Linked DNA regions of Homo sapiens. The protein of the gene in region 6 purifies or fractionates together with the protein of the main gene of each other region. This does not show direct contact. Each region holds a gene or a part of one and is shown on either strand. Other genes may lie near its edges. The genes, in order: EXD2, SLC25A51, NDC1, RDH11, DHCR24, SLC6A3 and GNPAT.

Region 1 (4,590 bases), on a different chromosome or scaffold from region 6:
AAGCTTCTGGAGTAGCTGGGACTACAGGTGCACACCATGATGCCCAGCACTTTGGGAGGCCGAGGTGGGAGGATCGCTTGAGGCCAGGAGTTCAAGACCAGCCTGGGCAACACAGTGAAAATCCCTAAAGTGCTGGGATGACACGTTGAGCCACTGTGCCCCAGCTAGGGGTGAAATTGTTGGAACAAAGTCTTTTCACATATTCAGATTCAGTTGATACCGCCAAACAGTTAAACAAAGTGATTGCATCAATTTATGTTCCCTTCAGGAGCATATGAGAGTTGTGGTTGCTCCACAATCTTGCCAATACTTGACATTTTCTTTTTCATTTAGCTATATCTCATTGTGGTTTTAATTTGCATTTCCTCTTTATCCTTTGTTTTTTAAGTGTTTCAAGATGGAGCAGATAAAAATTCAGGGAGTTAATCCTCTATAATAGCTGGAAATTTCCCCCATGGGTACTCATTCAATGGAATTTAAAACATTTGCCCCTGTATTGAAGGCAATATAGTATAAAGGATGGGGCCACATGCTCTGCAATCAGAAATATGAGGTTTGATTCCTAACTCCGGTGCTTACTTGCTGAATTACCTTGAGGAAGTTATTTAACCTTTTTCTATTTTATGTAAAACGGCACTAATAATAGTACTGCCTCACAGGGTTGTTATGGGGATTAAAGGAGAAAAAATAAGTAAAATGCTTTGCAAAGTTCCTAGCAACAGGTGAGCACAAAGTCAACAAATGGTAGCTATTATTATACCTTATATTGGTTATTTATGCACATCTCATTTCTCCTTCTGTTTTACACATTCCATGAGAAAGGAAAAGCATGCATGTAGCACAGATTAACTGCCTCACATATAATTGCTAATAAAGACTGATTGGATGAACGATTTAATATATAAACAAAAAGTATTGTGGTTATCGCTATAAAAGATGGCATAGGTTGGGCATTCACGCCTGTAATCCCAGCACTTTGGGAGGCCGAGTTGTGAGGTTCGCTTGAGCCCAGGAGTTCGAGACCAGCCTAGGCAATGTAGGGAGACAGTATCTACAAAAAAAAAAAAAAAAAAAAAAAAGGAGGGTACATAAAATTATTATAGTGGCTATAGGATAATGTGCACTGCTAATGAAGACTACATTATTTAAATACAGTGTCTTTCCTTCTATTTACTGTTATCGTTTAGCAGAAAAACAGTACGCAGGATACTAAAGAAGGAAAATTCGATGTCCCATATTACATTTGTGAGAGTTCTGGAGGTTTCTCCCTTCAAAGCCAAAACCAAAACACAAACATACCATCCCAGTAACAAATGCGTCACTTTTCTGAAGAAGACGTTAAGCCCTTCCAATTTTAACAGATCCTTTGTTCAACAGAGGAGAGAGACTGGGTAGGCATCACCTGCCCCAGTAGCTTCCGTACAAAATGGCGTTGCCCGTTCCCACACGCCAGCTGGGATTACGTCCTCCAGGCCTGTCGCAGGAACGGAAGTGGTTACGGCCCTAGTGAATCCGGGTGGGTGCGCGCAGGCGGCCGCACAGGTTCCAGGTCTTTAACGTGAGCCCGCTGCAGGTGTGCGGCCCAGTCCGAGACAGCAGGTAAGTGAGGCTCAGAAGCCGGCGAAGCCTTGCACCAGGATTGTGCGCGGGGCAGGGGGTGCTTCCAGTGCAGACTAAGAGGGGTCGTGGAGCGGGGGGATATTACCGTGTACGGGGGTGACATTGCGGGGCCCCCGCTGTCCCGGAGCGAGTTGGCCCTGCCCCTCTCCCCGCCCCTCGGCGTGACCCCCTCGCCCCCGTCGCACACGGCGGGGCGGTTCAGCACCCAGGTGCGCAAGGAGGGCCTCACCCCTGCCCGCGGCCTCCCACGCCCTCCTTGGGCCTCTCCTTTCGACCCCCTTACCCTCTCCCTGGGAGACTCTACCAGACCTTCGAGGCTGCGTGTCCCAGTCAGCTAAAAAGGAGGCCCCGCCCGCGGCACCTGGTAGCTCCTCGGGCGCTGCGGGTTCGACGCGGCAACAGCTGCTGTTTTCTCTCCTGGATTCGTGTGAGCCGCCACCCTCGCTACCATCCCTGTCCTCCCAGACCACACCCTGCTCTGGGCCTTGCCGGGAGCCACCTCTTTGGCTTTTCACATCCCTGGGATGGATCAAAACTAAGAACCTTAATCATTATTTATTACAAAATTGACATCTGCTCCTTAAAATACAAACAAACCAATCCCCCGATAAGCTTTTGATATGATTCCAACATTCAAACTCCTTTATATACCCTCTCCTCAAAAACACAAAATTGAAATTATACTTTATTTTCTTAGTTCTGTTCCAAGGATAGAAGGAATTGAAAGGTTTTGTTAATCATAGGAATTAGGAAGTGCGGGTTGGGGCGCAGCGGGGAAGATGGATTAAATTTGGTCAAGTTGAGCTTGTTTTAAAAATGTATTTTTAAAATATTCTAGTTATAGTCCGTGCATAAAGCCTTGTAACAAAATTATGTAAAAATTTTAAACACAGATCTTTCTTAGCTTGATGTTCTTGGTGGTGAGGGTGGGGAGTGTGGAAGACAGATCCTCTTTGATTTTGTTTTTTTCCATCTCCACCTTCTTTACCAGTCCCTTTCCCACAAAATAAGAACTGTTGTCAGTTTGTGTGTATTTTTCTTTGCATTTATTTGACAAGTATGTGTACGTATAAGATATATGTTTGTAAGATTTCGCTTTAAACTTTTACAAATATGCATGTTTTATGCATTACACAACTTGACGTTTTATGCTTAAAAACGGGTCTTGGAATTTTTTCTTTGTCAGTACCTAGAGATCTACCTATTCTTTCTACTTGCTCTGTAAATTCCATGGTTATGTAAGATTCCATAGATTGTTTCCAGTTTTTCATTGTTAGACACAGTATGGCGGAGAACATCCTTCCCACACACCTCTGTGAGAGCCCATGTGAGAGCATTTCTCAAGGATGGGTACCTGCAGGTGGAATTGCTGGGTGGGAGAGTATGGGGATTTAGGAATGCCAAACTGCCACCCACGGTGGATAATAATTTCCTCCATTCTCTCTCTCTTTTTTTTTTTTTTTTGAGACAGAGTCTTGCTCTGTTGCCCAGGTTGGAGTGCAGTGGCGTGATCTCAGCTCACTGCAGCCTCTGCCTCCCAGGTTCAAGCGATTCTCCTGCCTCAGCCTCCCGAGTAGCTGGTATTACAGGCACCCGCTACCACGCCTGGCTAATTTTTGTATTTTTAGTAGAGACGGGGTTTCACCGTATTTGCCAGGCTGGTCTCAAACTCCTAAACTCGAGTGATCCGCCTGCCTTGGCCTCCCGAAGTGATGGGATTACAGGCGTGAGCCACCGTGTCTGGCCCACCATGCTCTTTTGATCATTTAATGGTATCGATCTTTTTTGTTTTTGCCAATCTGATGGATGGAAAAGTGATTTCTCTTTGCTGTTTTAATTTGCATTCCCCTGATTACTATTGAGATTGAACATCTTCATGATTGTCAGCCATTTGTATTTCCTCTTTTGAGAAACATCTCTTTCTATTGGATTGTCTTTTCCTTATTGATTTATAATAGTATTTTATATGTTCTGGATTTTGATCTTTTGTTATTCATATGTGTTTATAATATTTACTCCCTGCTTATTGCTTTTTTAAGTTGTTGCTTGTCTTTTAACTATATGGCATCTTTGTTGAAACAAAGTTTAAAATTTTAGGTTTTAATTTATCAGTCTGTTATGTGTGTGTTTGTATTTTGTGGCTATCATTCCCAATCCGAGTGGTTCTTAAATGGCAGAGATTTTTGCTCTCGGGGTTATTTGGCAATGTCTGTAAACATTTTTTGTTTGTTCCACTAGGATGGTGCTGCTATTGGTTATCTAGTGAGTAAAAGCGAGGGTGCTGCTAAACATCCTACAGCGCACGGGAAAGCTTCCCACAACAAAGAATTTCACCAGCCAAAAATGTCAGTTGTGCTGAAGTTGAAAAATCCTTCTCTACTTTTAGAGAGAGGAGGGTTTTCTCCTAAAGCTCTGTTTTCTCCTTGAAGTTCTTCTTGTGGGAATAGTTTTTTTTCTTTAATTCCTCTGGAATTGTGTGTGTGTGATTGTTGTTTTCCAAATACTGTCACCTCGAACAGTCAGTCCATTCTTTTTTTTTTTTTTGAGTCAGAGTCTCGCTGTGTCGCCCAGGCTGGAGTGCAGTGGCGCGATCTCAGCTCACTGCAACCTCTGCCTCCCGAGTTCATGCCATTCTCCTGCCTCAGCCTCCCAAGTAGCTGGGACTACAGGCGCCCACCACCTCGCTTGGCTAATTTTTTGTATTTTTAGTAGAGATGGGGTTTCACCGTGTTTGCTAGGATGGTCTCGATCTCCTGACCTCGTGATCCACCTGCCTCGGCCTCCCAAAGTGCTGGGATTACAGGTGTGAGCCACCGCGCCCGGCCTAGTCAGTCCATTCTTGAACCATTAATCCGAAATGCCACACTTACCATGTACTAATTTCTTTTTTTTCTTTTTAATTTTTATTTGTAGAGATAGAGATGAGTTTTTGCTATGTTGTTCAGGCTGGTCTCAAACTCCTGGCCTCAG
Region 2 (3,991 bases), on a different chromosome or scaffold from region 6:
GATCACTTGAGCTCAGGAGTTTGAGACCAGCCTGGCTAACATAGTGAAACCCCGTCTCCACTAAAAATACAGAAATTAGCCGGGTATTGTGGCATGCCTGTAATCCCAGCTACTTGGGAGGCTGAGGCAGGAGAATCGCTTGAACCCAGGAGGTGGAGGTTGCGGTGAGCCAAGATTGCGCCACTGCACTCCAGCCTGGGCAACAGAGTGAGACTCTGTCTCAAAAAAAAAATTTTTTTTTTAAACTAGGTGAGCATGGTGGCTGATGCCTGTAGTCCCCTTTGGGAGGCCAAGGCTGGCAGATGATGTGAGCCCAAGGAGTTTGAGACCAGCCTGGGCAACGTAGAGAAACCCTGTCTCTACAAAACATACAAAAATTAGCTGGGCTTGGTGGTGCGGGCCTGTGGTCCCAGGTACTCAGATGGCTGAGGTGGAAGGATTGCTTGAGCCCAGGAGGTCAAGGCTGCAGTAAGTGCAGTGAACTGCGAGGTAGCCACTGCATTCAGCCCAGGTGACAGAGCAAAACTCTGTCTCAAAAAAACAAAACAAAACTGAGAAATAGTAAGATTGGTAATTCACAAGCTGCTGCTTTGCTAGGAGTGGTAAGGTTATAAATTAGATAAACTGATAACCCTGCTCAAGAAAAAAGGGAACATAAGTACACAGGTTAGAAGTAATTTTTTAAAACAGCAAGTGTTGGATGGGTGCAGTGGCTTGTAAATCCCAGCACTTTGGGAGGCCAAGGCAGGAGTTCAAGACCAGCCTGGGCAACATAGCAAGGCCCCCTCTCTGCTAAAAAAATGTTTTTTAAAAGTTAGCCAAGCATGGTGGCATGCGCCTGTGGTCCTAGCTACTCAGGAGACTGAGGCCCCAGGGGTCCAGGCTGCAGTGAGCCATGATCGTACCACCGTACTCCAGTCTGGGTGACAGAACAAGACCCTGTCATTTTTTTTTTTTTTTCTGGATAGAGTCTTGCTGTGTCGCCCAGGCTGGAGTGCAGTGCTGTGATCTTGGTTTACTGCAACCTCTGCCTCCCGGGTTCAAGCAATTCTCCTGCCTCAGCCTCCCAGGTAGCTGGGACTACAGGTGCGTGCCACGATGCCTGGCTAAATTTTGGATTTTTCGTAGAGATGGGGTTTCACCGTGTTAGCCAGGATGGTCTCGATTTCCTGACCTCATTCATGATTCGCCTGCCTTGGCCTCCCAAAGTGATGGGATTACAGGCGTGAGCCACCACACCTGGCCAAGATCCTGTCTTTAAAAATAAAAATAGGCTGGGAGCAGTGGCTCATGCCTGTCATCCCAACACTTTGGGAGGCCAGGGTGGGAGGAACACTTGAGCCCAGGAGTTTGAGACCACCGTTGACAACATAGTGAGACCCTGTCTCTACAAAAAAAAAAAAAAAAAAAAAAAAAAAAAAGGCTATATAAATTAAACCAGAATTTTTTTTTTTTTAAGGAAATCCAGTTATCAAAATTGACTCAAGAAGAGAGAACCTAACAGAACAATAACAATGGAAGAAATTGGGAACATTATCACAAAGCTATCATCCTGCCAAACTCCAGGCTCAGATGTCACAGGTGAATGCAATTAAACTTCAAGGAACACATCATTTTGATAAGATTTAAATTGTTCTACAGTATGATGGGGGTGGGGGGGCGGGGAATCACATATTCTTTTTACAAAGCCAGTGGAACATTGACACTGGCACTTGATGTGAAGATAGTATTAAAACTGAAAACTTATCTGAGTGCCAAGGCTTATGCCCATAATCCCAACACTTTGGGAGGCTGAGGCAGGAGGATTGCTTGAGCCAAGGAGCTTCAGACCAGCCTGGGCAACACAGAGTGACCCTGTCTCTACAAAAAAGTGAAAAATTAGCCAGGCATGGTGGCGCACGTGTGTGGTCCCAGCTGGGAGAATTGCTTAAGTCTAGGAGCTTGAGGCTGCAGTGAGCCATGATTGTACCACTGCACTCCAGCCTGGGTGACAGAGTGAGACCCTGTCTTGTAAAAGAAGAAAAAAAAAATGACAACATGATCTGTTATGAACAGTAATATGAAATTTTAAAATATTAGTAAATGGAAGTTAGCAGTATGATGAAAGAATATTTCACCACGGCCAAGTAGCATTTATCCACATATTGCAAGAGTGAGTAATCACCAAGAAATATGCTAACATAATACACCAAATGAATAAGTCAGAAAAGATAGAAAAGAATAATAAAATAGCTTGCCCTTGTTGAGTTCCTACTGTACACTAGACTGCTGTCCTGGGCACTTTACATGTTGTTAGCTCAGTTAATTGAGCTAGTCTATGAGGTAGTTAATAGCCACGTTTTATAAAGAGAATAAGCTATAGAGTGACTTGTCAAAGGTCACACAGTACATGTGTGGTGGAGCTAGGATTTAAGTAGGTAATTAGTAGGTTCCAGAGGCTGTACTCTTAAATATTACACTGGCTGTCTCCAGTGTTTGTATGATCATCTCAGGAGCTTTCTAAAAGCATTTGACCAAAGTTTAAGATAGACTCTTGAGTTATTGGCGGTGGGAAGGTGTGGAGGTGATTGAACTTCAGTACAACAATAATAAATGTATATTTCCTTCCCATGTTTGAAAATTCTCTCAGTTTGACTTATCAGTTGACTAGAAAAATGAAATTCATTTTTATTTTATTTATTTATTTATTTTTGAGACAGAGTCTTGCTGTGTCGCCCAGGCTGCAGTGCAGTGGTACAATCTTGGCTCACTGCAACCTTGCCTCCTGGGTTCCGGCAATTCTCCTGCCTCAGCCTCCCAAGTAGCTGAGATGACAGGTGCATGCCACCATGCCCGGCTAATTTTTTTTTTTTTTGAGATGGAGTTTCACTCTTGTTGCCCAGGCTGGAGTGCAATGGCATAATCTCAACTCACTGCAACCTCCGCCTCCGAGGTTCAAGCAATTCTCCTGCCTCAGCCTCCCGAATAGCTAGGATTACAGGCATGCGCCACCACGCCTGGCTAATTTTGTATTTTTAGTAGAGACAGGATTTCTCCATGTTGGTCAGGCTGGTCTTGAACTCCTGACCTCAGGTGATCCACCCGTCTCAGCCTCCCAAAGTGCTGGGATTACAGGCGTGAGCCACCGCACCCGGCCACCCCCGGCTAATTTTTGTATTTTTAGTACAGATAGGGTTTTGCCATGTTGGCCAGGTTGGTCTTGAACTTCTGACCTCAAGTGATCTGCCTGCTTCGGCCTCCCAGAGTGCTGGGATTACAGGTGTAAACTACTGCTCCTGGCCTGGAATCCATTTTTAATGGGAAGCACAATTTCATAGTTAATAGTTGGGGGCAGGAGCTTAAGTTATAATTGCAGCTCCACTAATTCTTAGAATGAATATAGATTGAAGTCTTGGGGTTTTTGGCATGATTTGTGAGATGAAATTATGTGATAGCAGAAGGAAGGCCTCCTGCACTTCATGTTTACAGTAGAGTCCTACAGATGGGCAGGGGTAGATGATAAATAGGGAGGAGGGATACTTGAGTGGAATAAATCATATATGACTCAGCTGATCAGTGAACGTTTCTGTGTCTTGATGATTTGTTTCCCTGTGTAAACTTGAAAACTGCTAGGACCTGGATTATGAACACTCAGATGACAAGAACTTCCTGTTTAAAACCGAAAGCCAACTTAATGATAATCCCTAGGAGAGTTCCCACAGGTGTCAAGAAAAATATAAGAACTATAATTATATATATATGTAATTATATATAGGGATTATAATTATAATTTATTATAATCCTTTATTATAATTTAATTTTGTTCAGGAAGTATTTATCAGTTCAATAAGAAGAAAGAATTACACATATTATAAAAGAGAAGGCAAAATTTTTTGCAAGTGATCTTTTACATGGTGGAAACTAAAACGTTCACCAAAAAACTGAGACATAGTAAGAATTCAGTAAGTTAGCTGGTTCTAACCTTAATACCCAAGAATTGTTAGTTGTTTTC
Region 3 (3,991 bases), on a different chromosome or scaffold from region 6:
CATTTGGCTCTAGTGTAATGAATCGGATGGCTGGAATTTTTGATGTAAACACCTGCTATGGGTCACCGCAAAGTCCTCAGCTAATAAGAAGGGGGCCAAGATTGTGGACATCAGCTTCTGGTGAGAATTATATATTTTTTAAGATTTTAAATGTCATGTTGCAGAGGATCAGACAGCCTAAGTTCTTATCTTGCCTTTTCTTTTTTAAAAATAGATCAGCAAATGACTGAATTTTCTAATCCTTCTCCATCTACCTCTATTAGTGCTGAGGGTAAGACAATGAGACAACCCAGTGTGATTTATTCATGGATTCAGAATAAACGTGAACAGGTAGGATGATATGGTTATAGGATTTATATTTGCATGTAAAATTGAGAACATTAAGGATCTCACATGAGTAAGTCATCAGGAATAAGAAGCTTTTTTTTTTTTTTTTTTATGCTTCGTGTATTGACTCAAATGAAACAGCCAATATTTGACTGGTTTGAGCTATACACATTGTAATTTCATATGACTTGACCTGATAACTTCATGTAAGAAATATTTGAGTTCTTTATATATCCAAGGTGTGCTTTTAGGCACTGGGAAAAAAGCAAACAAAACAGAGTCCTTGCCCATGTAATATTTACATTCGAGTGAGGGGAAATCAGTGAGTAAGCAAATGTATTATATTCTGTTTCTCTGAAATATAAAATATCATTAATTATAAGACTTATGTGCTATTAAGAAAAAAGATGCCTTAACCCATGACGTGCTATTGACTGTAAGATGCATCTCAACAGGTCATATTCAAGATATGGAAAACATGCATAAGAAGGAAGAAATTTGATATAAGTCTTAACTAGAAAAACAGAGCAAGGAAGACAGAGAGTTCCTAAGGGAGAGGGTATCATTTTATGTGGAGTGATAAGGGGAAGTCTCATTGATAAGGCAATGATTGATCAGAGACCTGAAGGGAGAGCTGGGAGCAGCCCAGTGCATCTGAGATGGGAATGGCCTTGGCTTGTGTGAAGAACAATGTGGATACCAGTGTGGCTGGAGCAGAGTGAGTGAGGGGAGAGTGGTAAGTGGGTGATAAGATCAGAAAGGTAGCAGGCACCCAGGGCTCATTGGCTGTAGTAAAGACTGGCTTCATCTCTGAGTGGGATGGAAAGTCACCGTATGGTCTTGCCCACAAGAATGATATGATGTAACTTATATTTTGAAAGTGCTGCTCTAGGGGCTGTGTTGGGACTAAACTCTTGCAAGGTAGGCATGTAAGCCCAGAGACGGTGTTAAGGTGTTAAGTAATCTAGTGGGAGATGGTGGTATCTGGGACCAGAGTGGTAGTGGTGGGGGCTGTAAGATGTGGTCAAGGTCTAGGTATGTATTTTAAGTTAGATGGAATAGGATTAGCTTATGGTTTGGTTGTGGTGTATACTAGAAAGAGTCAGTGTTCACTGGTAAGGTTTTTGGCCTGAAGATCTGGAATAATATAGTTGCAATTTATTGAGTTGGAATTTACTGATGATTCTGGAGAAGGAGATTTGATAGAGGTGAGGGGAGGGAAATCAGGAGTTTGATTTTGGACAAGCCAATTTTGAGATACCTATGAGACAACCAGGTGAAAATACTTAGTAAGAAATTAGGCATATAGCGGTAGTGTAGGGGAAAGTTCTGGGCTAGAAATGTAACTTTGGAAGTTTTCAGAGTATAGATAGTATTCAAAGCATGAGACTCGATGCAAACTCTTGAATGTAAATACAGAAGAAAAGAGATATCCAAGAAAGGGGCCCTCCAATGGCTAAAAGTTTGGGAGATAAAGAATAGCAACAGAGACTGAGGTGGGTAGAAATCCAAGAAAAGAAAGAGTTTCAAGGAGGAGAAGGTGGGAGTGTCAGATGCTGCTGATGGGTAGCATGGGGCGGGAACTAAGAATTAACTGTTGAGCTAGAAATGCGGAGGTCACTGAGTCCTTGACAAGAGCTGTTGGCTGGAGTAGTGGGGACAAAAAAATGCATGAGTTCAGGAGAGATTGGTAGACGAATTGGAGACCACAAGAAAAACCACATTTTTCAAGGAATTTGTTGTAAGTGGAACAGAAAAATGGGGCAATAGCTGGGAGGAATTGAGGGGTCAAGGAACTTTTTTAAAAATTTTGAGATGGGTTCTTGGTCTGTCTGTTGCTCAGGCTGGAGTGCAGTGGTATGATCATGGCTACACTGCAGCCTTGAACTCCCGGGCTCAAGTGATCCTCCCACCTCAGCCTCCTGAGTAGCTGGGACTACAGGTGCCTGCCACCATGCCTGCCTAATTTTTTTAATTTTTATTTTTTGTAGAGACACAGTCTCTATGTTGCCCAGGCTGATCTCAAACTCTTGGCCTCAAGCAGTCATCCTGCCTGAGCCTCATAAAGTGTTGGAATTACAGGCGCGAGCCACCACGCCCAGTCATGTTTTTATTTTTTAAGATGGGAGAAATTATAACATGTTTGCTGATGGAATGACTGATTAATAGGGAATGAATGGTTAAAGGCATTTCATAAACTTCGGGATCCCATACGGCTCTATATGCCATTAGTACTGCCGTGTCACTTTCTACCCAACCAGACACGTGCTGCTTGCTGCAGCCTTCTGACTAGTCATGCAGCTTTGGGTGAGAGTATGGTAGGAGCAGATTCACTTTTAAGTTAGTTGGGTTAGCTTTTAGCTGATACTAAGAACACTTTTTCCCCCGGAATTGTCAACTAGTAGAAAACTACTTTGTGTCTTAAGATATTTTTTTTCCTGTAATCTCAGCACTTTGGGATGCCACAGTGGGAACATTGCTTGAGCCCGGGAATTCGAGACCAGCATGGGCAACATGGCAAAACCCCATCTCTACTAAAAATACAAAAATTAGCTGGGTGTGGTGGTGCATTCCTGTAGTCCTAGCTACTTGGGAGGCTGAGGTAGGAGAATCACCTGAGCCCAGAAAGCAGAGGTTGCAGTGAGCTATGAATGTGCCACTGCACTCCAGCATGGGTGATAGAGTGAGACCCTGTCTCAAAAAAAAAAAGATTTTTTTTTCCCTGTGAGAGAAACATACTCTTTTTTTGGGTATTAAAAGGTTAAAGGGCAGGACAGTTATAGAGAATCGAGAAATAATGTGGCCTTGAAAAATATCTCCAGTCTGTAATCCTAGCACTTTGGGAGGCTGAGGTGAGAGGATTGCTTGAGTCCAGGAGTTTGAGACCAGCCTGGGCAAGATGGTGAGACCCTGTCTGTACAAAAACATTTAAAAATTAACCGGACATGGTGGTGTGCCTGTATTCCCAGCTACCCAGGAGGCTGAGGTGGGAGGATCTGTTGAGCCCAGAAATTTGAGGTGGCAGTAAGCTGTGATCATAAAACTGCACTCCAGCCTAGGTGACAAAGCGAGACCCTGTTTCTGAAATAAAAAAGAAAAAAGAAAAAAGAAAAAAATTTCACCAAAACCACTTAGAATTAATTAATTTTTTTTTATGTCAGGGCTCTAATTTGGGGGTTAAACGTGTATACATGGGAATACAGTTTAGTTGGCTCATCTTGGTTGTCCAATTTGTAGCACAAAGGTATTTAGTTACATGGCGTATTGTTTAAGTATTATTATTCTTTGCCCACAAGATGTGAAGTGTTTCATTTTTTCATTTAAGTTACTGTCTGGAAGAACTAGGAAATGTGTTATATTTGAATAGAATTTAAAAGGTAAATGTGTTAATTCTTCCTTTTTTCCAACTCAGATTAAGAATTTCTTGTCAAAACGGGTGCTGATAATGTATTTTTTCAGTAAGGTAAGAATATGTGGTTATAGCGTTGGGAATGGGGAGGGAGGAAATGAAATATGAAATAAAGTAGCAGATAGGATCTGACTTGTAAATATTTTATAGCTTAATCCTAGCAAGCTAGGCAGCTTTGCATAGTGCTTCACTGAACCTCCGTTTTAACAATAGTTGCCCTAGACACACATCTCACTTCAGTGGCTTCTGAAGCTT
Region 4 (3,991 bases), on a different chromosome or scaffold from region 6:
TTTCATTTCATTTTCCTACTAATGATGTTGAACATTCTTTCATGCGCTTTTTGGTTCATTTGTTTCTTTGTTGGGGAAATGTCTATCAAGTCCTTTGCCCATTTTTAAGTTGGATAATTGTCTTTTTATTGTTGAGTTACAAGAGTTCTTAATAGTCTAGATGCGAGTTCCTTGTCAGATATATAATTTGCAAATATTCTCTCATTCTGTGGGTTGTCTTTTAACTTTCTTAATGGTATCTTTTGAAATGTAAAACTTAAATTTTGATGAAGTCCAGTTTATCTATTTTTTGTCACTTGTGCAGTCATATCTAAGAAATCATTGCCTTACCCAAGGTCACAAAGATTTACTACTGTCTTTAGTAAAGACAGTTTTCTGTTACTAAACAGAATACCACAGACTGGGTAATTTCTAAAGAAATTTACTTAGCTCATGGTTCCGGAGGCTGAGAAGTCTAAGAACATGGTGCCTGGCATTTGGTTAGGGCCTTCTTGCTGTGTCATAATATGGCAGAGGGCATCACATGGTGAGAGGGCAAGCAAGAACAAACCCACTCCCATGATAGTGACATTAATCCAGGTATGAGGGCAAAGCTTTTATTAATTAATCTGTTCATGAAGGCAGAGGGACTAAGTTTCCAACATGTGATTTTTTAAGGGATACATTCAAACTATAGCAACCCCTATGTTTTCTTCTAATAGTCTTATAGTTGTAGCATTACATAGGTCTGTGATCTGTTTTGAACTATTTTTATTTTATTTTATAATTATTATTTTTTTGAGACGGAATCTTGCTCTGTGACCCAGGCTGCTCACTGCAACCTCCGCCTCCTGGGTTCAAGCAATTCTCCTGTCTCAGCCTCCCGAGTAGCTGGGACTACAGGTGCACACCACCATGCCTGGCTAATTTTTGTATTTTTAGTAGAGATGGGGTTTTGCCACGTAGGTCAGGCTGGTCTCCAACTCCTGACTTCAAGTGATCCCCCTCCTCGGCCTCCCAAAGTGCTGGGATTATAGGCATGAGCCACCACACCCGGCCTTGAACTAATTTTTGTATATGATATGAGGTAGGGGTCAACCTTCATTCTTTTGCATGTGGATATCCAGTGCCTTAGCACCATTTGTTGAAAAGACAGTTTTCTACCCATTGAATTGTCTTGGTATCTGTATTAGTCTGTTAAGGCTGCCATAGCAGAATCCCACAGACTGGGTGGCTTAAACAATATAAATTTATTTTCTCACACTTCTGGAGACTGAAAGTCCAAGATCAAGGTGCTGGCCTGGTTGGTCTCTGGTGAGGCCTGCCTTCCTGACTTCCAAATGGATGCCTTCTCTCTGAGCCCTCGCATGGCCTTTCCTCTATGTACACACACTCCTGGTGTCTCTTCCTCTTTTTATAAGGCCCTGTTGGATTAGGGCCCCGCCCTGATGACCTCATTTAACCTTAGTTACCTCCTTAAAGGCCCTCTCTCTAAATACAGTCACACTGGGGGTTAGGGATTCAACATATTAATTTTGGGGGAACACAATTGGAGTATAACAGTAAGCTTGTCAAAAATCAATTGACCATAAATATAAGGGTTTATGTTTCACTTTTCTGTTCCGTTCATTTGTATGTCTGTCCTTATGCCAGTATCACACTATCTTGATTACTATAGCATTGTAGTAAGTTTTGAAATTAGTTTATCTTTTACCTATACTAATTCTTAGCAAAATCCCCCTGGAAATGTCAATACTGTGACCATGCTGATGCCATAGGCACACTTAACTAGCTCTTACTTGGCTGGGCGCGGCGGCTCACGCCTGTAATCCCTGCACTTTGGGAGGCTGAGGTGGGCAAACTACTTGAGCCCAGGAGTTCAAGACCAGCCTAGGCAACATAATGAGACCCCATCTCTATAAAAAATGCAAAAATTAGCCAGGCGTGGTGGCGTGTCCCTGTGGTCCTGGCTACTTGGGAGGCTGAGATAGGAGGATCACCTGAGCCTGGGGAGGTTGTAGTGAGCTGCGATCACACCACTGCACTCCAGCCTGGGCAACAGTGAGACCCTGTCTAAAAAAAACAACCAGAAAGCTCTTGCTGTAGTATTTGATTAGTTTTTATAGCCTACAAGGAACCTTCATGTCAACTGTGTTCTTTGCTCTTAACTGTAACCTTATGAAGAGTATAAGGCACAGTGCAGTGGAGGATGCAGAGGCTTACAAAGGCTGAGTCATTTCCAGAGAGATACAGAGCCTTGTGGTTCTCACTGATGATCTTTTCACTAGGAAATGGCAAGTTGTACTGGTCATACTGGTGAGTCTTCTTAAACAGAAGTACTGATAAGACTTGTTTTGTAAACGTGACGATATTTTGAAATGGTATTTCTCAAACTTTAGTGTGTTCAAGAGTCATCTGGAAAACTAGTTGAAAATAGATTCCTGGACCACAACCCTAGAGATTCTCATTCAGTATGTCTGGAGTAGGGCTGGAGAATTTCTAACAAGCTCCCAGTTGATGCTCCTGCTGCTGGTTTGTGGTGCACACTTTGAATCCCACTGTCTTACTTGACATAGTGTTAAGAGTTTGCATATATAGTTAATTCAGACTTGTCAACTCTTTCACCTTCAGAATTTGCTTAGATACTGAGGAAGCAATTTTCTTGAAATAGTATACTTTTAAAAATTGTTTCCTCACATGACTAAAGATTGTAATACATTCAATCATTTTTTTTAAAACTTTGACTGAATGCTTACCAGATGTATACCAGATCCAGAGAATACAAAAATGAGTCAGAATTGTCCTTAAGAAAATTTTCTGCATCGGAATTATAAAATTATAAAACTTGGAATTACAGGCTGGGTGCAGTGGCTCATGCCTGTAATCCCAGCACTTTGGGAGGCCGAGGCAGGTGGATCACTTGAGGTCAGGAGTTCGAGACCAGCCTGGCCAACATGGCAAAACCCTGTCTCTACTAAAAATACAAAAATTAGCCAGTCATGGTGGCAGGCGCCTATAATCCCAGCTACTCTGGAGGCTGAGGCAGGAGAATTGCTCAAACCTGGGAGGCGGAGGTTGCAGTGAGCTGAGATCGCATCACTGCACTCCAGCCTGGGCGACAGAGTGAGACTCCGCCTCCAAAAAAAAAAAAAAAACTTGGAATTAATTACAGCAATGAAGAGAGGGTATATGAAACACTTTGCTATGATTTGAATGTGTCCCTCAAGGTTCATATGTTGGAAACTTAAGCCTCAATACAACAGTATAGAGAGGCAGGGCCTTTAAGAGGTAAATTAGGTCACAAGGGCAGCCCTCATGAATGGTTTAATGCCATTATCTCTGGAACGGGTTCATTATCTTGGGAGTGGTTCCTTATTAAAGGATGACTTGTGTCCCCTTCCCTCTCTTGCCCATGTCATGCCTTCCATCTTGTTATTACACAGCAAGAAGGCCTTCATCAGATGCCAGCCCCTTGATCTTGGACTTCTCAGCTTCCATAATCATAAGCCAGTTTCTGTATGCTCATTATAGTTACCCAGTTTGTCGTATTCTGTTACAGTACCACAAAATGGACCAAGACACCTCGTACCTTGGTTTTACCATTTCTTTTCTGTGTCGCCTTTTCCTTTTGTTGTTTTCGAAGCTGGCTTTACTTCTCATATGAGTTTACTAACAGTATAACTTCAAGGAGTCCAGAAATAAGCATTTCTTTTTTTTTTTTACTACTCCAGGCATCTCTGACCAATGTGAATAGCAGGATCTCAGCTATATGACATTGTCCAAGGCTCTGTAGAATGGGCCTTATGGACTTACTTGAAGAAGATGGATATACATGGGTGTCAGGCAGGCACTAATATTAAATTATATAAATAGGGGAATATAAAGACCAAATGTATGCATTATATATCAAACAAAGCATTCTGATGAGAGGTGGTCTAGCGAGGAGATCTAAAATGGTAATTACATTTTCTCTGGCTAAGGACTGGAGAATGAAGAGATAAGGACAAACACT
Region 5 (3,500 bases), on a different chromosome or scaffold from region 6:
GACTGGAGTACAGTGGTACGATCACAGCTCACTGTAGCCTTGAACTCCAGGGCTCAAGCAATCCTCCTGCCTTAGCCTCCTAAGTAGCTGGGACTACAGGCGTGTGCCACCATGTCCAGTTAAAAATTTTTTTTTTTTTTTTGAGATGGAGTCTCACTCCGTCGCTCAGGCTGGAGTGCAGCGCGTGATCTCAGCTCACTGCAACCTCTGTCTCCCAGGTTCACACGATTCTCATGCCTCAGCCTCGTAAGTAGCTGGGATTACAGGCATGCACCACCATGCCTGCCTAATTTTTGTATTTTTAGTAGAAATGGAGTTCACCGTGTTGGCTAGGCTGGTCTCGAACTCCTGACCTCAGGTGATCTGCCTGCCTTGGCCTCCCAAGCCAAGTGCTGGGATTACAGGTGCGAGCCACTGTGCCCGGCCTGGTTAATTTTTTAATTTTTAAAATTTTTTTGTAGGGATGGGGTCTTGCTATGTTGCCAAGGCTAGTCTTGAACTCCTGGCCTCAAGCAGTCTTCCCACCTCAGCCTCCCAAAGTACTGGGATTACAGGTGTGAGCCACCACACCCAGCCGAGACCTATTTCTCTGTGTGTGTGTGTGTGTATATGTATGTGTGCATGTCTTCATTTCATTCTGTAATATCCCATTTTTGCATGTAAATAATTGGCCTAATTTAGCCCTTACTGACATTTATGTTGCATAAACTGTTTTGCTCTTACAAATAAGATTGCATTGAAGATTTAAGACTCACATTTATCCTGTCCTTCTGTACAAATATTTGTGTAGGATTGAGTCAGAAAAATGGACTTTGTTACACAAAGGTTTGAGCACATTAAATATTAATAGATATGACCAAACAGCCCTCGAGAAGAGCTGTGTTTATGCCTACTTGTAGTAATGGTCTGTGAGAACACCTTTTTCCCTACATTCTTGCCAACACTAAATAGGATCACTCTTTCATTTTTGCCAATCTGATAGCGTTAAAAATAGTATCTCGTTTTATTTTGCAGTTCTTGGATCACTTGTGAGGGTGAGCCTCTCTTTGCAGCATTTTGCAGTTTGTTTGTCTTCAGCAGTGATCACTTGGTTCACATTTGTCTTTTCTTGTTTATTGTTTTTTGTTTTGAGACAAGGTCTCACTCTGTCACCCAGACTGGAGTGCAATGGTGCGATCTTGGCTCACTGCAACCTCCACCTCCCAGGCTCAAGCAATTCTCCTGTCTCAGCCTCCCGAGTAGCTGGGAATACAGGCGCATGCCACTGCACCTGGCTGATTTTGGTATTTTTAGTAGAGACGGGGTTTCGCCATGTTGCCCAGGTTGGTCTTGAACTTCTGAGCTCAGGTGATCGCCTGCCTCGGCCTCCCAAAATGCTGGGATTACAGGCGTGACCCACTGCACCCAGCCTTTTTCTTGTTTATTGTGATAAGCATTTCCCCCTGTTGTTACATTGCCTTCATAACCGTCATTGTTAATATCCATCTTTTATTAGAACTATTACATTGCCTTCATAACCATCACTGTTAATGTCCATTCTTATTAGAATTAAAGAATCCCAATTAGAATGGCCAACCTTGCATTGCACCTTGCACTGAGGAAATGAATGCCCTATTGCTGCCCATAGTTGGAAATTTAAGTTGCTTCCAATTTTTTTATTACTTTAATTAATGGAGCAATGAACATCTTTTGTCTGTAATTTGAGTAATATCTTTTGTTTTTTTTTGAGACAGAGTCTCGCTCTGTCACCCAGGCTGGAGTGCAGTGGCGGGATCTCGGCTCACTGCAAGCTCCACCTCCCAGGTTCACGCCATTCTCCTGCCTCAGCCTCCCAAGTAGCTGGGACTACAGGCGCCCACCACCACGCCCGGCTAATTTTTTGTATTTTTAGTAGAGATGGGGTTTCACTGTGTTAGCCAGGATTGTCTCGATCTCCTGACCTCGTGATCCACCCACCTCGGCCTCCCAAAGTGTTGGGATTACGGGCGTGAGCCACTGCGCCCGGCCAATTGGAGTAATATCTTAACATAAAATCGCAGATCAAAGGATAGGCATCCCTTAAGACTCTTAATCTATACCTATATACATACTTAAAACATTTTAAAGTTGTGAAGGGCTATAAAATCATCCGGTACAATCCTCTCTACAAATAAGGAAATGAGGCCCAGAAAGGGAAAGAGACTTCTCTGAAGACACACAGCTAGCACAGAACAGATTTAAATTCCAGCTTCTGACTCCTGGTTCAGTGTCGGTTCCCTGACATATCAGCCTGCAGACTTTAGCACTATGCAAACATTGCTCCCTGTGGGACACTGCGGTAAGTGCTGGAGGTCCTGGAACAGCGGTGGCAATACCGGACATTGAGCTGAAGTGCTCTGGCCCTCCTGGGCCCCTGGATCTGCCTGAGGCCAAAGCTCAGACAGTGTGTGTCACCTAGCACCAAGTCACCTAGCAAGGACATCTAGACCAGAGCTTTCCAGCTGCTCTGAGGTGTTCCCTTGAGGCTCTCAGGGGTAGGAAAGCTGAGGAGGGATGGGACCAAGGGGAGTCACCACCCCCACTGTACCCAAAGTGGCTCTGCTGCCATCCATTTGATGTATTAGATGCTCCCTAAGATTATGATTTGGCAGAGGGGTTTGCCCAGCTTTTGAAATATTTGGAGACCTGATCTGATTCCCTTATTTCCCAAGGAGAAGACTGTGAGGCACAGAGAGCCTTACCCAAAGGCCCTCCCAGAATCAGCAGCAGAGGGATATTTGCCAAGTGCCCCAGTGAGCAAGACCCTGATACCTGAGGGAACAGGGCTGGGGCAGAGTGGTGGATGCCATTAGACATCTGGGCATTTCATTTTAGAAGCATTGCTTCCAAACATTTCTGTTTCTAAGCATTCAGGAATTTGTCCCTGTGTGCCAGGCCCTGTGATGGGCCCTCTGCAGGCACTGCCCCGTGTAAACATTGCTGCAATCCTGTGAGAAGCAGCCTACCCCCATTTCACAGAGGAGGCCCAGAGATAGGAAGTGGCTTGCAGTCAAGGGCTGGGGTGGACTGGAGCTCATGCAGCCACCTGGCCTCCTCAGCTGGTGTGTGCCTGGAAAAGACAGACTATCTGGGTTCTTTCCCATGTCCTGGGCTTCTCTGCATGGCTCCTGATGCATCAGTGAGCACCAGGAGCGCCTGTATCCAGGTGGCCCTAAGTCTCACTTTCATTATGCAGCTGCTGCCACTGCCAGGTATGTGACACACCTCACCTGGGGTTAGATCAGGTTGCTCTGTTTCCTGCTGGGTTCCCCTGTTCACATTAGCAGGCAGAGGCCAGCGTGAGTGTTTTTTGCGCTGCCCCATACCATCCACACCAAAACTAATTTGGGCAAAGAGGCTCTTTAGCCCCAGTTTCCTCCCTGCAGAGTGGCCTCACCAGCAGGGTGGCCTTACCAGCAGGGTGGGCCTGCACAAGCGGGTGGCACACAGATAAGCTGCAAGTGCTGGAGGCCAGAGATCCA
Region 6 (3,991 bases):
CAGGTGGCTGATGACCAGCATGGGAGCCACATCAGGGTATGAGCCTCTCCACCCACTGCCCACCCAGCCACTCTCGGCTTGGCTCCTCCCCTCATGCTGAAACACTGGCCACCTGCAGAGTCCTGACTGCGGGGCCTGGCCATCTGCCTCCAAACACACTGTCCCAGGAACTGGGGTTGCCTTGAGGCTCTGACATGCTGCCCAAAGGACAGAGGGCCCCGCCCCCTCTGCAGCACCCAGTTCCCTTGCTCAGTCAAGCTCAGGCAAGCTTGACCTGGGACCTGGGATGCCCTGAGACCCACCTGGCCTCCCCAGCAGGAGCATCTGGTGTCTCTGCCTCAGCATCCTGGCCCACAGGCCTGTACCATGGGCTCCAGGGACTTGCAGGAACAGCCCTAACTGACCAGTCCCTCAAATGCCTCCAAGGGGGGGTTGGCTGCTCCTTCTCCCCCATCCAAGGCCCAGGGAAGGGCAAGGTGGGCATCTGAGTCACTGAATGGTCTCCGCAGTGCCCTCACCTTAGCAGGTTGTGGCTGACTTTTTAAAATACCACAATGGTCCAATCGTGGACCCACCCACCTTTCCTTTCACGTCCAGAGTTGTGGGTGCCATCCACCGAGTTGGGCAGGCACAGCACCAGTGTCTAAGCTGCAGGTGGGCTCCTGGCCATGCCCAGGTGCCACTGTGCACCTGTACTGCTCATGTTTTGGGAAGGATACAAAGCAGGCATTGCTGGTGTGCGTCCAATCAGGACACCATCATCATGTAGCATGTGGATGGGTCCATGCCTTTCTGAGGGTTATCAGGGTGCTGCCATCATGCAGCATGTGGATGATCCATGCTGTTCTGAGGGTTGTCAGGGCGCCACCATCATGTAGCCTCAGGATGAGTTTATGTTGTTCTGAGGGTTATCAGGGTGCCGCCATCATGCAGCTTGTGGATGATCCATGATGTTCTGAGGGTTATCAGGAAGCCGCCATCATGTAGCCTGTGGTTGAGTCTGTGCTGTTCTGAGGGTTTCAGGGCACTGCCATCATGCAGCAGGGCGCACATGGGATGGGGGGACACACTCAGGGGGTTGTGAAGCTGGACCCTGATCAAGGGAGGATGGAGACCCCGCTAGGGCTGGTGTGAGTGTGGATAAGTCCATGCTGTTCTGAGGGTTATCAGGGCGCCGCGGTCATGTTGTGTGTGGATGAGTTCATGACTTTCTGAGGGTTATCAGGGTGCCACCATTATGCAGCATGTGGATGAATCTGTGCTGTTCCGAGGGTTGTTAGGACGCTGCGGTCATGTCATGTGTGGATGAGGCCGTGCTGTTCCGAGGGCTATTAGGACGCTGCGGTCATGTTGTGTGTGGATGAGTCCGTGCTCTTCTGAGGGCTATTAGGACGCTGCGGTCATGTTGTGTGTGGATGAGTCCGTGCTGTTCCGAGGGCTATTAGGACGCTGCGGTCATGCCGTGTGTGGATGAGTCCGTGCTGTTCTGAGGGCTATTAGGACGCTGAGGTCATGCTGTGTGTGGGTGAGTCCGTGCTGTTCTAAGGGTTATTAGGACACTGTGGTCATGTTTTGTGTAGATGAGGCCGTGCTGTTCCGAGGGTTATTAGGATGCTGTGGTCATGCCGTGTGTGGATGAGTCCATGCTGTTCTGAGGGCTATGGAGCAGGGCACCTCTGGTTCTGTGGAATCGCTGCCTTGATACTCCATGGGGAATCCCAGATCAATGAACACAGACAGCCCCCTGCTTCTCAGGCTCTTCCAGGCCGCTGGCCCGGGAGGGTTCACTTCCTGAGGCTGCATCTTCCACCAGTCGTCTGCTGCCATTTACTTCTTGAGGATGGTGTTGAGTTTAGAGGCCTCAGTGTGGGGCTGGGACAGGAAGGGTGCTCAGGTCCTTTGCCTGTGGCCTGCGTTCTCCTGGGACAGCCTCTCACCGCCCTCTGGCTCTGCAGGTTTGGATTGACGCGGCCACCCAGGTGTGCTTCTCCCTGGGCGTGGGGTTCGGGGTGCTGATCGCCTTCTCCAGCTACAACAAGTTCACCAACAACTGCTACAGGTGAGCCCCTAGCAGGGCCAGGCAGGGGCCTCATCAATACTAGGGAGAGGTCGCTGACTTCCAGAAATAGGGTGTCCCTGGATGAGAACAGGGCGGATCCACTGAACCCGCAAACCTGTGAGCTGCGTGGCCTTTCAGACAGAAGCGACAGCGAGGCAGCTCCCAACACGATTTTGATTTCAACTTTAAAGAAGGCACTGAAGCCAGTGGGTGTGTCGCCTCCTGGGAGGGACCTGCCTAGGTTTGACCTGCGGCCAGATTCCCCACTGAGGGCCCCAAGTGGCAAGGCCAGCCCCTCCCTCCACAAGGACACACCCTCTTCCCTCACACCAGCCCCGGGGGGTCTCTGTCCTCCCTCGCTCAGGGTCCAGCTTCACAACCCCCTGAGTGTGTCCCCCCATCCCATATGCACCCCGTGTTACTTACTGGCAGGCACCTGAAGCCCCGTGCCGGACCCCAAATCCTTCTAAAAACAGAAACAGAATTTTATCCGGGATCTGCTTGCTTTGACCTTTATGGACTTGTGCTTACTTTCTTTCACATCATGAGGCTAGAAACACGGTAAAAATACAAGGACAGTGTGTGCAGCAGAATGGCCAGGCAGACCACAAGCAGGCTTCACTGAGAGTGGGCGCTGGAAGGCAGGTCCTGAGGCAGCGCCTGCCCGCAGCCCACCTGCGTCCACCTGGGTCCAGGTGCTCTGCAGATGAAGTGTGTGGTCCTTCCACCCCAGTGACAGGCCACACAGGAACCCAGGAGGAGGACGCTGGTGCCCTGACCGACCCCAGGACCCTCCCTCTTCGTCCTCGGCTTGCCTCCAGCTCTCTGGTTTCTCAGCCCTCAGAGTGGGGCCCCCAGGCCCGCAGCACCAGCGCCCTTGGGAGTTCATGGGAAACACAGCCCCCGAGACCCCATGAGACCCGCCCAGTCAGGATCTGCATCTTAGCGAGGTCCCCGGGAGGTGTGTGCTCCTAGAGCTTCTGGAAGATCTGCCCTGGGTGAGGTGTCCACAGCAAGACTCGCGGGGCACAGGGGTGGCCGTCTGTTCTGCCCACCCTGAGCCTTGATGGCTGAGCCTTGAGCAGCTCAGCTAGGGGACCAAGGTGGCCCAAGGACAGCTCTGCCAGGCTGCTAAGGAGCTGGCCGTGCTCACTGGGAAAAGTAGCCCCTCCGAAGACCTCCCGCCCCCTTCCCCAGACACAGTAAATTAAGAATAATGACTGGAAAATTGCAGCTGCTGCAGCTCAGCTGGTTCCTGAGACGGCGTGTCTTGTTCTTACAGGGACGCGATTGTCACCACCTCCATCAACTCCCTGACGAGCTTCTCCTCCGGCTTCGTCGTCTTCTCCTTCCTGGGGTACATGGCACAGAAGCACAGTGTGCCCATCGGGGACGTGGCCAAGGACGGTGAGCCCCTCCTGCTGCACCTGGGCCTGCTCCGTGTAGCACCAGCGCCGAGCTCTCAGCAAAGCCTTTTTCCTTGTGAAAGAGGAAGGAGACGCATGGGCCCTGAGCGACTTCAGTGAGAGTTGCTGCCTCACTCTTGAAGGATGGTGGTACACATCCCAGTACAGACCTGCCCCCACCCAGCGCCTTCCCCGCCCTGACCCTCCAGGCCCCCCACCCAGCGCCTTCCCCGCCCTGCCCCTCCCGGCCCCCCACCCAGTGCCTTCTCCGCCCTGCCCCTCCAGGCCCCCCCACCCAGTGCCTTTCCTGCCTTGTGCCTCTCGGGGCCTCCACCCTGGGCTGGGGAACCTCAAGCCCAAATGCAGCTGAGCAGCATAGTTGGTGCCTCAGTCCCTCGACTGCTCCCTGCAGATGCCACATGAGGCTGCCCCACCAGGGTCTGGCGTAGATGCTGTCACTGAGGGCCCTCTAGATGTTTGCTTGCCACGCGGTGTGGGAACATGCAGCTCAGGGAAGGGGAGGAAT
Region 7 (3,991 bases), on a different chromosome or scaffold from region 6:
ATCCATGTGTTATCTGTTTTTTTGAAATCTAAATGTAACAGAGGCCAGGTAATCTGTGATCATCACTTAAGAAATGGCTCACCACCACCCTTGGTCCCAAACACTGTAACATTCTCTGACAGATTCAGGGTATAAGTCAGCAATCTCGAAAACAGTCAGTAGGAAGAAGAAATATTTGACAGGAAAGTAAATGACTGAATTAAAACAAAATATTAAAAGGGATGAGGAGGAAGGCAAGTGAAGTTAAGAGCTTTCCTAGAAGAAAAAAATATAAAACACAAATAAGTAAAAATACTCTTCATAAGGAAAGCTCTTTATGAAATTAGAAAAGTCATCATTTGGCAATCATTAACATAATAATTAATTCAGGCAAAAATCATCAGTGGGTGCAAAAACGAGTGGGGTAAAGTATGATGCAAAACAGGGTATTTAGCCATTTTCAAAGAGTCTTTTCACAAGATATTCATTAATTATAAAGGGAAAAAATAATAACTTTACAGCAGAGAAACCTGGCAGTCATAACGATAACCAACTGATGGAAGTGAAACATCTCCAGTAATGAAACCGACAGGCACCATGCATTGCTGACACGACCCACTGAGAAGAATGCATCGCTTCCGGGGTGTTCCTAGCAAAGGTACACAACCCGAGCCCAATACTGAGATAACATCACTCAAATTCAAACCATTTCACACTTCAAAATAATTAGCCTGTTCTTTAAAAAAAAAAAAAATTAGCATGAAACACAAATACAGATACTAAGGAATTATTTTAGATTAAAAGAGTCTAATATGGAAGTGGATACAGAAGAAAGTTGAACACTTTCTAGGATTTCTAGCGCAACACATGAGCTACGATTTTCTTTAGCTAGACAGGACATGACTGGGACAACTGGTGAAATATGAGTCAGGTCAGTATTACTAGTATTTGTTCAATGTTAATTTCCTTATTTTGATACTTGTACCATAAGATAATGCCCTTAATTATAGGAAAAACACAGCAGAGTATTAGGAAAAGGATAAAGGAAATGCTGTAAGGGAATCTAGGTGAAGTATATACAGGAATTCTTTGTATTTCTTTTGTAACGTTACTGAATATCTGGCATTAAGTTAGTCTATAAGTCTTACTTGACTAAGTTAGTCTGAAGCCTGTAGGTCTGCAGTTAAAAGGAAACAAAAAAACAGAAAACAACCTTCAGAGATGCACATCCTCTTCTGCCTAGACTGGAGGCCTGATGATTAGGCCCTAGGCTTTTGATTGACCAAGTGAGCTGTCCTTGAGTTGATTAAATTGTGAGGGGTTGAAAAAGAGACTGTTTTTTTTTTTGTTTAATTTTAAGATGAGACTTTTATTTCTTTATTTTTTTAATAATCAATACTCACTTTCTGAATACCTTCTTCATTTACACACACCTTCGAGAAAATTTGTTTAAATACTTTGCTCAGGGTGAAGGCACAAAACCGAATGGCTCCAAGACGCAGTTTGTGACTCATTTCATCTAAGATCTCACTCACTTCCTCTCGGAGGACATCCACAGATTGAAGGGATTCCTTGGAAAGCTAAAAGGAAAGGAAAAGCAGGAATAATTTCTAACAACAATAACAGAAAAGTCAGAAAGCTTTACTCAAACCAGTATGACTAGTTCCAAATGGATTAATCTTCTATAACTCAAAGATAGTGTCTTCTTAATTGACAACTTCCCAACACAGTCATAGTAGATAAATGAGCCTATTTAAAGAAGTTTAAAGGCCAGAAATTAAAAGAAAAATGGCTTTCTAGGATAGCATTTTAGAGTGAAGAAAACACTTCACCTTTCCATTTGGTTTGTTAATAAGTTTATATCCAAACTCTAAAATAAGTTGCTGCCCATGGTCTAGTGTCCTAGCAAATAGTGGCTTCTCTCAGTGTATTGCTGCAGTGCTCCACCAGCTGGCTCAATGCTATTACAAGGTAATATACAAGATCACATTGAAATTACCGACTCAGACTACATCAGATCTATCAAGTCACAGGCACACAAAGTCCCAAGCTATCAAAGGATAATTAGTGAAATAAAGAATCTCACAACGGAACTTATTTTATTCACATGGCCCTCTAGCTCTTTTGTAAAGAAAATAAAATGTTTGCTGTGTGCTGGGACTGTCAAGGGCCTGGAGATGAGCAAGTCAGTTTCTATCCTTGAGGAAGCCCTGATTTGCCCATTTTCATTGTCCCCTAAACAAGCACTTTGAAATGAAGTCTGTAGGATAAGTAATCCTTATGCTTCCCAAAGGAGAGTGCTTTGCTTTAGGATGAGCTCAGAAGCTCAGAGGACAGGTGTTGGCACCCCAATTACATGTAGTGAAGAAGTATCTTACCCTTTTTTTTCATTGAGGTGAAATTCACACACTATAAAATTAACCTTTTTTTTTTTTTTTTGAGACGGAGTTTCGCTCTTGTTGCCCAGGCTGGAGTACAATGGTGCAATCTCGGCTCACCGCAACCTCTGCTTCCCGGGTTCAAGCGATTCTCCTGCCTTAGCCTCCCGAGTAGCTGGGATTACAGGCATGTGCCACCATGCCCAGCTAATTTTGTATTTTTAGGAGAGACGGGGTTTCTCCATGTTGGTCAGGCTGGTCTTGAACTCCCGACCTCAGGTGATCCGCCCGCCTCAGCCTCCAAAATTGCTGGGATTACAGGCGTGAGCCACCACACCCGGCCAAATTAATCATTTTAAAGTGAACTATTCAGTGGTATTTTGTACATTCACAAATGTTGTGCAACCACCATCTCTATCTTGCTGCATATCCTATCTTTTGGGGGGCTCAGTTCAACAGGGAGGAACTGGGATAAACTCTTTCCTCTTACCTGTGTTCCTTTGTTTTACTCAGGTTACCTGAAACAGTGATTGTGCCAAAAAAAAAAAAAAGTTTATAAATATAGTCAGAAGAGAACTCATACTGAATGGACTGAAGACTAAATGAACTGCTGAGGAACTAAAGACAGTGGCCACAGAATAATGGGAAAGTTTGAATGAGAAGTAAAGGGATGATATGAATTAAAGCAAAAAATGCTCTCCCTAGATGCAAAAGTCCTGGACCTGTTTTTTTGTTTTTATTAATTAGCATTCCACTTTTAAAAAATTGTGTTGGCTGGGCGTGGTGGCTCATGCCTGTAATCCCAGCACTTTGGGAGGCCGAGGCAGGTGGATCACGAGGTCAGGAGATTGAGACCATCCTGGCTAACACGGTGAAACCCCGTCTCTACTAAAGAATAGAAAAAAAAAAAATTAGCTGGGTGTGGTGGTGGGTGACTATAGTCCCAGCTACTCGGGAGGCTGAGGCAGGAGAATGATGTAAACCTGGGAGGCGGAGCTTGCAGTGAGCCAAGATAGAGCCACTGCCTCCAGCCGGGGCGACAGAGCGAGACTCTGTCTCAAAAAAAAAAAAAAAAAAAAAAAAAAATTGCATTAAAATACACATAACATAAAATATGCCATTTTAACCATTTTTAAGTATACAGCTCAGTGGTGTTAAAGCCTCGGACCTGTTTATAGACCAAATAGAAGAAGTCCCCTGAGAGAAAGGCTGAAGATAGAGGAAAGGGAGCAGATGCATGCCAAAGGTCTCAGAAGAGGCTGGACGGGATGACTTCCGACCACAGGGGTGTGGCTAGCTGTGACCAGGAGAGCAGGCGCCTTTTCTCTGAGACTGGACTAAAAGGGACAGATGGAAGAAGGGATCCTGAGGCTGCAGAATGTGGATCTGTATAACTCACCCACTCTCCCAGGAGCAGCCAGACACCTGGTTATAGGAACAGAGAAGGTGAGTTGGCAGATTCCAGGCTGCTTTTTTTCCTGGTCAGTCTGGAAGGAAAGATTGCAAAGGAGAATTAAGGGTTGGTGAAACAGTTACTCAGATAATCCTAATAACAGCTGGACAGGAAGAAAGGGCAGAGGGCAGAGGGCAGAACCAAGGGAAAATAGAGGAATCAAGGGACTGGTAAGAGGGAT

Evidence for each region.
Region 1: the proteins of SLC6A3 (region 6) and EXD2 purify together in Homo sapiens (affinity purification with mass spectrometry; one large-scale study listed by BioGRID and IntAct). This does not show direct contact.
Region 2: the proteins of SLC6A3 (region 6) and SLC25A51 purify together in Homo sapiens (affinity purification with mass spectrometry; one large-scale study listed by BioGRID and IntAct). This does not show direct contact.
Region 3: the proteins of SLC6A3 (region 6) and NDC1 purify together in Homo sapiens (affinity purification with mass spectrometry; one large-scale study listed by BioGRID and IntAct). This does not show direct contact.
Region 4: the proteins of SLC6A3 (region 6) and RDH11 purify together in Homo sapiens (affinity purification with mass spectrometry; one large-scale study listed by BioGRID and IntAct). This does not show direct contact.
Region 5: the proteins of SLC6A3 (region 6) and DHCR24 purify together in Homo sapiens (affinity purification with mass spectrometry; one large-scale study listed by BioGRID and IntAct). This does not show direct contact.
Region 7: the proteins of SLC6A3 (region 6) and GNPAT purify together in Homo sapiens (affinity purification with mass spectrometry; one large-scale study listed by BioGRID and IntAct). This does not show direct contact.

What each region holds. Positions count from the first base shown.
Region 1 is NC_000014.9:69,189,993-69,194,582, forward strand, and holds the start of EXD2 (exonuclease 3'-5' domain-containing protein 2), read left to right. Parts: upstream 1-1,505; 5' UTR 1,506-1,599; intron 1,600-1,778; exon of another isoform or gene 1,779-2,047; intron 2,048-4,590. UniProt on the Homo sapiens protein: Exonuclease that has both 3'-5' exoribonuclease and exodeoxyribonuclease activities, depending on the divalent metal cation used as cofactor.
Region 2 is NC_000009.12:37,897,419-37,901,409, reverse strand, and holds part of SLC25A51 (mitochondrial nicotinamide adenine dinucleotide transporter SLC25A51), read left to right. Parts: intron 1-1,459; 5' UTR 1,460-1,581; intron 1,582-3,991. UniProt on the Homo sapiens protein: Mitochondrial membrane carrier protein that mediates the import of NAD(+) into mitochondria. Mitochondrial NAD(+) is required for glycolysis and mitochondrial respiration.
Region 3 is NC_000001.11:53,793,028-53,797,018, reverse strand, and holds part of NDC1 (nucleoporin NDC1), read left to right. Parts: coding exon 1-120; intron 121-214; coding exon 215-330; intron 331-3,739; coding exon 3,740-3,790; intron 3,791-3,991. UniProt on the Homo sapiens protein: Component of the nuclear pore complex (NPC), which plays a key role in de novo assembly and insertion of NPC in the nuclear envelope.
Region 4 is NC_000014.9:67,678,548-67,682,538, reverse strand, and holds part of RDH11 (retinol dehydrogenase 11), read left to right. Parts: intron 1-3,991. UniProt on the Homo sapiens protein: Retinol dehydrogenase with a clear preference for NADP. Displays high activity towards 9-cis, 11-cis and all-trans-retinol, and to a lesser extent on 13-cis-retinol.
Region 5 is NC_000001.11:54,866,696-54,870,195, reverse strand, and holds part of DHCR24 (delta(24)-sterol reductase precursor), read left to right. Parts: intron 1-3,500. UniProt on the Homo sapiens protein: Catalyzes the reduction of the delta-24 double bond of sterol intermediates during cholesterol biosynthesis.
Region 6 is NC_000005.10:1,414,166-1,418,156, reverse strand, and holds part of SLC6A3 (sodium-dependent dopamine transporter), read left to right. Parts: intron 1-1,955; coding exon 1,956-2,059; intron 2,060-3,341; coding exon 3,342-3,466; intron 3,467-3,991. UniProt on the Homo sapiens protein: Mediates sodium- and chloride-dependent transport of dopamine. Also mediates sodium- and chloride-dependent transport of norepinephrine (also known as noradrenaline). Regulator of light-dependent retinal hyaloid vessel regression, downstream of OPN5 signaling.
Region 7 is NC_000001.11:231,258,075-231,262,065, reverse strand, and holds part of GNPAT (dihydroxyacetone phosphate acyltransferase), read right to left. Parts: intron 1,560-3,991; coding exon 1,383-1,559; intron 1-1,382. UniProt on the Homo sapiens protein: Dihydroxyacetonephosphate acyltransferase catalyzing the first step in the biosynthesis of plasmalogens, a subset of phospholipids that differ from other glycerolipids by having an alkyl chain attached through a vinyl ether linkage at the sn-1 position of the glycerol backbone, and which unique physical properties have an impact on various aspects of cell signaling and membrane biology.